2 separate regions of the Homo sapiens genome follow, and region 2 is linked to region 1. The links come from fine-mapping of genetic effects on gene expression. A gene starts in region 1. The other region holds a variant in brackets. All regions are shown on one strand. Distances are from middle to middle.

Region 1 (5,378 bases):
AGCACATATGTTATCTGTCATTCTCATAGACCGCGTATTACACAAACAGAGATCTAGGCTTTTGCTCAAGGTCACAACTATAAGTGGTAGAAGAGAATGATATCCAGGTCTGTCCACACAAAAAGCTCTGGGTAGAGCTTGTTCAACAATTTCATAAATAAGGATAGACTTAAAAAAACACACTGGACCTATGGGATGAGAAATGACACTGACTCAAGCCTGGATGAAGTAAAGCATGCAGTTTGGGGGAGGGCTCAGTCTGCAGGCCTCTGCCAGCAGCAGCTGAAGAAAGTGACCTTTACTCCAAACCCTACAGTGCGACAAACCACCCATCCAGCTCTGCCTAGAGTGGGTTAATATGCCACAATTCGAAAAGAGAAAGAGAATGAGTGTTTCATGGTGGCCCCAGACAGTTTGGTGGCCGCAGAAGTTGAGAAGGCTCAAATCTGGAGATCAGGTTTGGGTTGGAGTCGTGCGTAAGGGAGCGGATGTCACATAGGTGGGGAAGGGAGCTGACTTGAGATACGTTGGCTTAGGAAGAGATGTTGCAGGAGAGAGGGTGAAATGCACAGGCTAGGAGAGTAGACGGCTTCACTTGAAGGGAAGGGATTGGGGCTGTGGATGCCTCTAGAGGCAGTTGTCAGAGGGCCTCTAAAAGGTCCATTTTAGAGGAAGCGAGAAGGAAGGTCTCGATAAGGAGCCATTCAGGGTCCATTACCTGCTGGATGGTTGTACAACGGCCTCAATTTCTCGGGCAGCATCAGCTCCACTTTATCGAGGAGCCGGTGGTAGGTGGCCCGCAGGCCTCGGGCACCGGCGGCCGACATCGCCGCCGAGGGATCGTTGGCAGCCGGGTGGGAGCGTGGCTGTGTTCTCGTCCCTGGCTGACAACGAAGGGGAGCTAGTCACTTTTCCTGCCACGACGACTCGCGTCCGCCTCTCGCCTGGAGTACCCTTCCCGCGGCTTTCCCTGCCCGCTGTGAACCGAAAAGCTGCGGCCCGCGCCCCGCGAAGGTTGAGGGGGCGGAGGCTGCCGACTGCCAGCCCCCGGTCCGCCTCCGGCCCCCGGCAGGAGAGAGGGAGGAGCCATGGCAACAGGTGCCAAAATAATCACCTCACCAAGTCTGCGCTGCGCCCTGCTGGCAGCGCGCTTGCGCAGGCCGAGCTGCCCGCCATGATTGGCCCGCCCCGAGGCGCGGGCGGGGTCGAGCGGAAACCTCCTCCTTCTCCCCATGCCCTCGAGGCCATGTTGGAGAAGGGAAAGTGAAGCTGCGCTGGTTCTACTGCCCTTTCACTTTGATTAAGCAGGCCCGTAGTTAAAATGGGTTTTTGGGCCTTCAGTGCCTAAAGATGATGCCGCACAATTCTCTTGCTTCTTTTCACTGGAGACTCGTGAGCGAGAGACTACAGAATTGAGTAGCTTCTCTCTCTACTCGTCTTTTATCCCTAGCGACTTAAGGATCTGGTTAGAGTGGCCCGAATGCATTCTTCCAGGGTGAGGGCAGCCGCAGCACACACCAGCCTCAGTCCCCAGGGTGGTCGTCATCTCGCGAGAAAGGGTTGGCGGGGAGGGTATCCAGGACGAGGAGAGGGAGGAGTCGCCATCGCCTCCGCCTCCGCCTCCTCCTGTTGGAGGGGGGCTGAGGGAGGAGACTGTTGCTGATCTTTGGATGTTCTGGTTAGTCTAAGAAGGAGAGTATGAGGCGAGCTCCGGCCCGGGTGCGGCCGGGCTTCAGGGGCCCAGGCGCCGCTGCTGCCACCGCCATCTAACGCTGCGCCCTGGAGGCCCGGCGCGCGGATGGTGCCGGTGCGGCTCGGGTGTTGAAACGGGTGTCCCCTCCCCCTCCTCCCCTCCCCCACGCGGTGGTCTCCCCTCCCACCCGGCTCAGGCAGAGCCATGTCTCGGGGTGGCTCCTACCCACACCTGTTGTGGGACGTGAGGAAAAGGTCCCTCGGGCTGGAGGACCCGTCCCGGCTGCGGAGTCGCTACCTGGGTGAGCGGGGGCCCCGGGGCGGAGGCGCTGAGGTCGCCGCCTAGAGTGGGGGAGGGGGCACGCTGCCGGGTCTGTTGGAGGTGGGACGGCGTCTCGGTGGGGGCGCCCGGAGACTCTGGGGTGTTGGGTGGGGCCTTGGTTGCCGAATTCCGTGCCGGTGCCTCCCCCAGTCAAGCCCCCTGTGCATGCTGCCAGCCGCCGCCCTTGCTGGGTTTTTCTCGGAGGGCCGGGCCGTGGGCAGAAGGTACTGGCTTGTAAAGGTGTTGGGGTCGCTGATGGGTTGGGACTCGGGAGACTTGCGGAACCTCCAGGAGCTGCCGCGTTTAGAGCAAAAGTTAGCTCTTTTGCTCTTTTCCAGCGCGCTTTCCCCGCTCAGCCGAAGAACCTAAGTTGTTGCCCACCCTCTCCTTCAATCTCCAGAGGGTTTAGGTGTCGGCTGCGACGCGTTGACCACCCTCAGGGACTTCACGCTCCAGACAGAATCCGTGTAAACTGTTTTTGCGGCGCTGAGCCAAAACCTAAAAGTGATAGCTGAGCTCTCCCCACCCCCGCGCGCTCTCCCAGTTCCACTCTGCTCTTCAGTTCGTTTTGACCGCTTAAAGGTGGTGTAGGGTTTCACGTTCCTCTTCCCACCCCTGGAAAACACACTTGGCATTTACAGTTTCGTAGTTAAGCTTTCTAAAAACAACCTTCAGTACTTGGGGGAACAGTATTCCACTTTTTTCGTTTTGCATAACATTTTTTTTTTGAGGATTCTAGGTCACGCCCGAGTCAACTAAAAAGTTTGGTTTCTTAAAAATGGACGTACTTAGTAAAGGTCTTTTTTGTTTCTTCCTGTATACTCTTCATTACTCTTTCTTTCTATTTGGAGATACGGCAAACAACATCATAAAATTTTTTTCTTTCCAGTTTTGCCACTTGCTAGTTAAAAAGTGTTTGTTGCTCTCATTTGTTTTTGATTTCAAGTAAAGAGAAGAAAATGAAATCTCATTACAACCAACAGTTCTGGTTTGTAAATTATTTAAGAAAAGTTAGCATGCAATTTTTTAATTCTTTTTAGTGTCTCAAGTAAAATACGAATACATTTTGTTTATAAAAACTCAATAAAAATGAAGCAAAAATCCCTTTGATCCCTCCCATTCAATTTCACTCCGCCACCCTTAGAAATAATATTTTCTGTTTTCTGAATATTCTTCCAGACCTTTTTGTTTGCATTCTTACAAGTACATATGTACATGTACAAATGCTGGGGTGTGTGTGTGTTTGTGTGTGTATGAGAGAGACACCTGAGTGCATGGTGTCATATTGTAAACATTGTTTTCACTTCTCCACATTTTGGAGATCTTTCCATGGCAGTAAAAATAGATTGATTCTGTCTTTTAAATTATTACATAGTAGGTAACATTATGAAGTACCATAGGGTACTCAACCTTTCTTCTTTAAGTAGACGTTCGCCCTTACAGCATTTTAATGAACATCATTCTACAAGCTTCTGTGCATTTGTTGTAGGATAAGTACCTAGAGTGGTGATTAATCATTTTAAAATTGAACATAGCTGGAGTCTGGTTTTTAAAACTATTTACCAAAAAAAGTGTGCAGTATTTCTTTTAGAATTTATTTGCGGAGAAAGAACTTAATTTTAGCTTAATAAAACAAACGTTAACATTGTTTTGCATGGATACATTTATAATTTGGTCCTTTATCTCAGTTGGACAGTTTAAGTACTTGTATATAGTTCTATATTTTAGTGTTTTCTTTTGGTTCAGTTACTTCAGCTATATCTACAAACGAGTTAATTAAAATATAACAAAACCATATACCTGCTTTTCCCCCTCCTACTCCAACTCCCTAATGGAAATGGAATTTGTGTATTGGGTCTAGGGGAATTGAAGGGTTCACTGACTATATTAGAAAGCCTGAATTACAGTTTTTCAAATGTGTATGTATACATACAGGGAGTTCTTTATCTTAAATAATATTTTAGATATGATAATATATACTCTTAAAATAGGACATTTTTGGAATGACTTCCTTTAAAAGTGGTTTTCTAAGTACTTGAAAATACTTTTTGAAAGTATCGAAACTTGAAAATGTTTGCAAAGAACTAATTTATTGGCCTTTACCCTTAGTAGACCTTTACACTGTTATTCAGCTCTTCTATACTACAGTGCTAATCCTGGCTTTGCATTCAGGAAGCAGCAAAATCCACATTGGTAATGTTTGAATTAGTGATGGTTTTTTTTAAAAAATGACTTTCCCTCCCAGTTTTATTGGGGTATAATTGACAATTAAAAATTGTTATATTTAAGGTGTAGGACTTGATAACTTCATATACAATCAAGTTAATTAACATATCCATCATGTCACATAATTACCATCTTTTTTTGTGTGTGGCGATAAAATGACTTTATCATTATTATTAATTTTATTTTTATTATTAGATAAAATGACTTTTTAAAGTACAGTACTCTTGGCCGGGCGCGGTGGCTTACGCCTGGAATCCCAGCACTTTGGGAGGCCAAGGTGGGTGATCACTTGAGGTCAGGAGTTTGAGACCGGCCTGGCCAACATGGTGAAACCCTGGTCTTTACTAAAAATACAAAAATTAGCCGGGAGTGGTGGCGTACGCCTGTAGTCTCAGCTCCTTGGGAGGCTGAGGCAGGAGAATAGCTTGAACTTGGGAAGTGGAGGTTGCAGTGAGCCAAGATTGTGCCACTGCACTCCAGCCTGGGCGACAGAGGGAAACTCTGCGTCATAAATAAATAAATAAATAAATAAAGTATGGTACACTTATAAAGCCTTCCTTTTAAAAGTCAAATTCCAAGTTAGGATTTTCCTAAGGAAATAGATTCCTTTTTTAAAAGACTTCAATATTTAAACATTACGATTGTCTATCTACAGGGTTGTAGATTTAAGTATTTTTCTGATACATTTTCATTATTTGTATTTCTACAGATTTTTTAGCAGTGAATTACTGCTAAATAGTAAAATTGGGATAGAACAAATAGATAAATTTTTCTTGTAGCCTTTACATTTCCAGTTATTTCACCATAGCATGTGCCCTTTCAATGTTAATATTCAAGCTTTGTAATTGATTTTACTTAAACTGATTAATTATCTCCTTTCTTCCCATCAAAGAAAATTATACTTCAGAAAACTTCCTATTATGTTGTGGGAATGAAGATGAATAATTTCCCAGATGTTATTTATGATTAAAAGATATGTTTACTTAGAGCTCCCAAATCCACAAGATTCACCTGGGCCAACAGAGTGTTGTTTTAGACTAGCATGGATTTAGAGGATAGGCCAGGGATTTTAATCTTTGTGAGCCCTATCTAAATTTCAATGTAGGATTCTTTTTTTTGGTGGGAGGCGGGGGGCAGG
Region 2 (5,378 bases), 190 kb after region 1:
TGGCACATTGTAGATGTTCAATAATTGTGATGAATAAATATAGGAACAATGGGACACTAGACACCTTGACACACTAGGCATTTCTTGTTTACTCTGCAGAAGAGTAGCAGACACTATTCATTATCCAGCCAACATCCATTCTCCTCTTCTATCAAAAGAACCCTGATTTCACGTGGGGTACCAAATGTGCCTACAAAAATATATGGGCTTGGTCCAGGAATGGTGACTCATGCCTATAATCCCAACACTTTGGGAGGCCAAGGCAGGAAAATTGCTTGATCTCAGGAGTTCAAGAGCAGCCTGGGAAACATAGCAAGATCTTGTATCTACTAAAAACCAAAGAAAGAAATAAAGAATTAGTCAGGCATGGTAATGCACACCTGTAGTCCCAGTTAATCAGGAGGTTGAGGGAAGAGGATGGCTTGAGCCCAGAAGGTCAGGGTTGCAGTGATCTATGATTGTACCACTACACCCCAGCCTGGGCAACAGAGCAAGACCCTGTCTCAAAAAATTATATGTATGTATCTGTCTATCTATCTATCTATATCTATCTATATAGATATAGATATAGATATGCACATACATACACACACACACACACACACACACACACACACACACACACACTTGTTTGCATGGAAGCTGGAGTGGCCATTAGACCCAGTCTGCAAAGTGGTGGAAAGCTATCCATTCTCCAATACAAAGGGACAGACTCAGCTGTGGCTTTTACCCTTCTCCTTTCCCTTTCTCCTGACTGGAACTCAAAGTCAATGCTTGAAGGTGAACGTGAAGAGCCATTTTTTGACCATGTAGTTGGAAGTCCCATGCAATAGAAAGCAGAAAATCCCTAAGGTGAAGCTGGGTCACAAAAGATCAGAACTGCCCAAGGCTGTTCCAAGTCTGTTTGACGCTGAAGCAGCCCAAGCTACCTAATGAACTGTGAAGCCACTACACCCAGCCCCAGCTAGTCAACCCCTTTTTGGTTAAGTCCTGTAGCAGAGTTGCCTTCGCATGTTGTAAAAAGCAATCCTAACTTGACACACAGGTTGAAAGTGAGAAGAGAGGAGCTGAGGAAGGCAAACTGTGCTGTGATGAATATGATGATGCAGTCAGCTCAGCTGCTGGTAAGGATTGGTGCCACCACGTCTTCATCTGCCCATCTATCTCCTTCTCCCATCCACCCTGTCCCATTCTCCTCAACCCCCAGGGCAAACACTGCTGCAACCCTAACTTGTATCCCTTTTCCCATGATAACTCCAAATAAAATCAAACGTTCTCATCATTGGAAGGAGAGGGTGTCCAGTTACAATTTCCCTTTCAAAAATGCACTAACACTCAAGCTAATCCTCAGGAAATGCTCCATTCTAGATAGCTGAGTTTTCTGAATTGGTCGAGTTTTATTAATTCCACCTTAAACTACCCAAACTCTTTAAGCCTTTAAGCAAAATTCATGAAAATCTATCACACATTTTTCTGTATTTTAAAATAAGGTATACAAAACATAATTTTCATAATAATTTGAGGTCATTAAATGCCAAGATACGTGGAATTTTGACTTGGGAAAAACCTTAGAGAGCAATTCTAATGGAAGCATTTTCTTTTGGAACCTCAGAGAAGGTTGTTAGCTTGCCCACAGTCACTCAGCTAGTGGGTTATCACAGTGAGCCATTATTATATGATCCAAAACACAGTGATTCCCTTAAGACTGGTAAAGGTCATTTATATGGTTTGGATATTTGTTCCCTCTAAATCCCATGTTGAAATGTGATCTCCAGTGTCAAAGGTGTGGCCTAGAGGTGTCTGGGTCATGGGGGCAGGCTTGGTGCCATCCCCATAGTAATAAGTTCTTGCTCTATGAGCTCATGCAAAGTGTGGTACTCCTCCCATTGCTCTCCCTCTCCCTCTCATGCTGTGTGGCATGCCTGATCCTCCTTTTGCCATGGGAGCCCTCACCAGAAGCAGATGCTGGCGCCATGACTCTTGTCCAGTCTGCAGAACCATTAGCCAAATAAACTTCTTTTCCTTATAAATTACCCAGCCTCATGTATTCCTGTATAGCAACACAAAATGGACTAATAACCAGAATGTTCTCCTCTTACATCAAATGTGTATTGCATATTCTCTGTCTCCTTTTTATACTTTCTCCGTAATTTCTTTCAACTTTCAGCTGCCCCCTTTTCCCTATAAAAGTATACTTATCTGCAGTTTCCCTTGTCAAGAGTATTAAAGGTCTGCATAAAGTAAAAGCTAATACTATCCTGAGGGAGGGCTTCAGTGCAAAGTTCTCTGAGTACAGACTCTGTCAGATACAAGTCATTTCCTCCTGTGCCTTTGGGGAGTGCTGATTTGTTCCAGGAAACAAAGACCCTTGAAATAGTCTAGGTCCCAGAATAGGATTTAATATGTTTTAAGCTGTAGGAGGGAAACTGCTGAATTTAAACAAAAATTTAAACAAGAATGTTGAGTCCTGTTGGATTTTATACCATCAGAAAGGCCAATATATAAGTGCAGACAAATA[C/T]GTTTTATACTGAAAGACTTTCATTAGAATCTTTCAAAAGGCCAACTCCAGAAAATATGAATTTTTTTGAAGAGACCGTAGGTGTCAGTGCAGAAGATATTTGCACAGGCCTGCATAACATGTACAGTATCTTGACTATCTTGCTTCCCCCCCCTTTTTTTTTTTTTGAGACAGTCTCACCCTGTCGTCCAGGCTGGAGTACAATGGTGTGATCTCAGCTCACTGCAATCTCCACCTCCCGGGTTCAAATGATTCTCCTGCCTCAGCCTCCTGAGTAGCCAGGACTACAGGCACCCGCCACCAGGCCCAGCTAATTTTTGTATTTTTAGTAGAGATGGGGTTTCACCGTGTTAGCCAGGCTGGTCTCAAACTCCTGACCTCATGATCTGCCCGCCTCGGCCTCCCAAAGTGCTGGGATTACAGGCGTGAGCCACCGCACCCGGCCCTATTTTTATTTCCCCTATAAACTCTACTATGACACATCCTCTAAGTCAGGCATTCCCAAACCGTGGGTGGCAGCTACTGTGAAGGGTCTCCCAACCAAATATACCCCCAGCTGTCTGAAGACCAAATAAATGAGGTTACACACATATGTAAACTATTATTCTGAAAACGTCTATAGATGCTATTGCGGTCAATAGAATTCAAATTCCTTGTTTATGTTGTCATTCACTCACAGCAGCTTTCTGTAACTGAGCATTTTCTCCAGCTGAAGTGACACTATAGGGCAGGAGAGGATGCATGCAGCCTGGGAGAGCTCAGAGGTTACCACCATAAGCCATTCCCTACGCTGGCCACTCACCTCCTTGTTGCCACTTATTTGAACACCGTCTATCTCTAGACCACCTTAAGAACTCTGAAGAGGCCTTTCCAGAAAATGCTACCTTTACAATGACCCTTACCATCTCCTCCGGTCTAGGGTTTGCCTTTTATATTTTAGTTGTCCTTTCAGACATTCATGTCTTCTCATAATACAAGTATTGTTTTGTTTTGTTTTTTTTGAGACAGCGTCTCACTCTGTCACAGCCTGGAGTGCAGTGGCGTGATCACAGCCCACTGTAGCCTCGAACTCTTGGACTCAGGTGACCTTCCCACCTCAGCCTCCCAAGTAGGTGAAACTACAGGTGTGTGCCACCACACCTAGCTAATTTTTGTACTGTTTTTGTAAAGAGGGGGTTTTGCTATGTTACCCAGGCTGGTCTCAAACTCCTGGGCTCAAGCAATCCGCCCACCATGGCTGCTCAAACTGATGGGATTACAGATATGAGTCACCACACCCGGCCATAATACAAGTTTTTATTTTAGGTGAGGATGTTTTCCCTTCCAGAAAGCTTATGAATGCTTCCTCAGTTTCCCCTTTGAATTCCCAACAGCACTCTGCATGTGGAGAAAACAAATATTTTATATTTCCCCTACACTAATATCCACTTAAACCTGATATCGAATAGAAAGAACATGGGCCTTGGAATCTTTACCAAACCCAGGTCTGAATTCCCTGTGACTGTGTGTGTGTCTCTTAATCTCTCTGAGACTCAATTTCTCCTAAGACAAAAAAGAGAGTAGATATACTCTACTTTATACAACTGCCAAGAGGAATCTACGAGGTAATGAGGGTAAAAGTACGAGCAAAAAGGTTGTCAGAAGATAAACTCAAGGAATGTTTACAAAAATTACTTAAGACATGAAAAGAAAACTCAATTCTTTTTTTCCCTTTCAAATTTTAATTCAAGCTGGCCGGGCACAGTGGCTCACACCTGTAATCCCAGCACTTTGGGAGGCTGAGGCAGGTGGATTGCCTAAGGTCAGGAGATCAAGACTAGCCTGACCAACATGGTGAAACCCTGTCTCTATTAAAAATACAAAAATTAGCCAGGCATGATGGTGGGCACCTGTAATCCCAGCTACTCTGGAGGCTGAGGCAGGAGAATACTTGAACCCAGGAGGTGGGCATTGCAGTGAGCCAAGATGGCGCCACTGCACTCCAGATTCGGTGATGCAGTGAGACTCCATCTCATTAAAAAAAAAAAAATTTAGTTAAAGACAGAGAGGTTTCATTCAACTACTGTATTAGTCTGTTTTTATGCTGCTGATAAAAACATACCCAAGATTGGGAAGAAAAAGGTTTATGGACTTACAGTTCCACATGGCTGGGAGGCAAGGAGGAGCAAGTCACATCTTACATGGATGGCAGCAGGCAAAAATTCCCATTTTTAAAACCATCAGATCTCATGAGACTCATGCACTATGAGAACAGCACAAGAAAGACCCACCCGCTCCCATAATTCAATCACCTCCCACTGGGTTCCTCCCATGACACATGGGAATTGTGGGAGTTACAATTCAAGATGAGATTTGGCTGGGAACACAGCCAGAGCATATCAACTACTTGTTGATGCGGAAGAGATGAAATGGAAGACAGAAAAGATGCATTGCAAGAGAATGCAAAGTGGAAGTGTCTTTGACTCCATAAGGGGCTCAGGGCCTGAAGATTTAAAGCCCCACTATAGGAAGATGCCCCCTCCCAGAACTGAGCTGCTGCAGCTACCACACAGATGCTCAGGCTGAGGGTTGTGGGCACCCAGGTAAGCAGCTGACTGAGAAATATGAAATTTTAATTTACCTCCACCTGTAACTGTGGGGCTGATATTCCATGCTTCCTTTGGCTCAAAACCCCTTCCCTGAAATTGCATATATTTTCTTTTTAAGCAGAAGAGCTGAAATGATATCAGTGAAAAGAATGAGGTTAGCTGGGGAGGGTCTGAAAATATCCAAGCAGTAGACACTGGATAATAATCAAACCCACTCCCTACCTCACTATCCTACATCACTGATTCTCAATCCCCATTCTCCAGATCCCGCA

Alleles and levels. Alleles are on the strand shown, and positions count from the first base shown. SD is a standard deviation of normalised expression in the study named.
For the expression in lung of the gene that starts at base 2,058 in region 1, allele T in region 2 goes with a lower level than allele C (moderate effect, 0.42 SD a copy in GTEx).

The links. PIP is the estimated chance that this variant, and not a neighbour inherited with it, causes the effect. A credible set is the group of variants that fine-mapping cannot tell apart.
Region 2: its variant is the best candidate, but not a certain one, in a credible set for the expression of MPC2 in lung (GTEx, PIP 0.53).

Annotation. Positions count from the first base shown.
Region 1 is chr1:167,935,015-167,940,392 of GRCh38, forward strand. It overlaps MPC2 (mitochondrial pyruvate carrier 2), which reads right to left and starts at 2,058. Exons shown (of 6, transcript NM_001143674.4): 1 at 1,925-2,058; 2 at 719-884. The coding sequence starts at 827. It overlaps DCAF6 (DDB1 and CUL4 associated factor 6), which reads left to right and starts at 1,669. Exons shown (of 22, transcript NM_001198956.2): 1 at 1,669-1,994. The coding sequence starts at 1,898. RefSeq lists enhancers at 685-794, 1,245-1,554 and silencers at 965-1,134, 1,735-1,804, 1,835-2,074.
Region 2 is chr1:168,122,953-168,128,330 of GRCh38, forward strand. The region is part of intron 1 of GPR161 (G protein-coupled receptor 161); the gene reads right to left. Among named protein-coding and RNA genes, the nearest start is that of GPR161, 11 kb to the right of the region's middle. The variant C/T (reference allele first, on the strand shown) is at 2,519.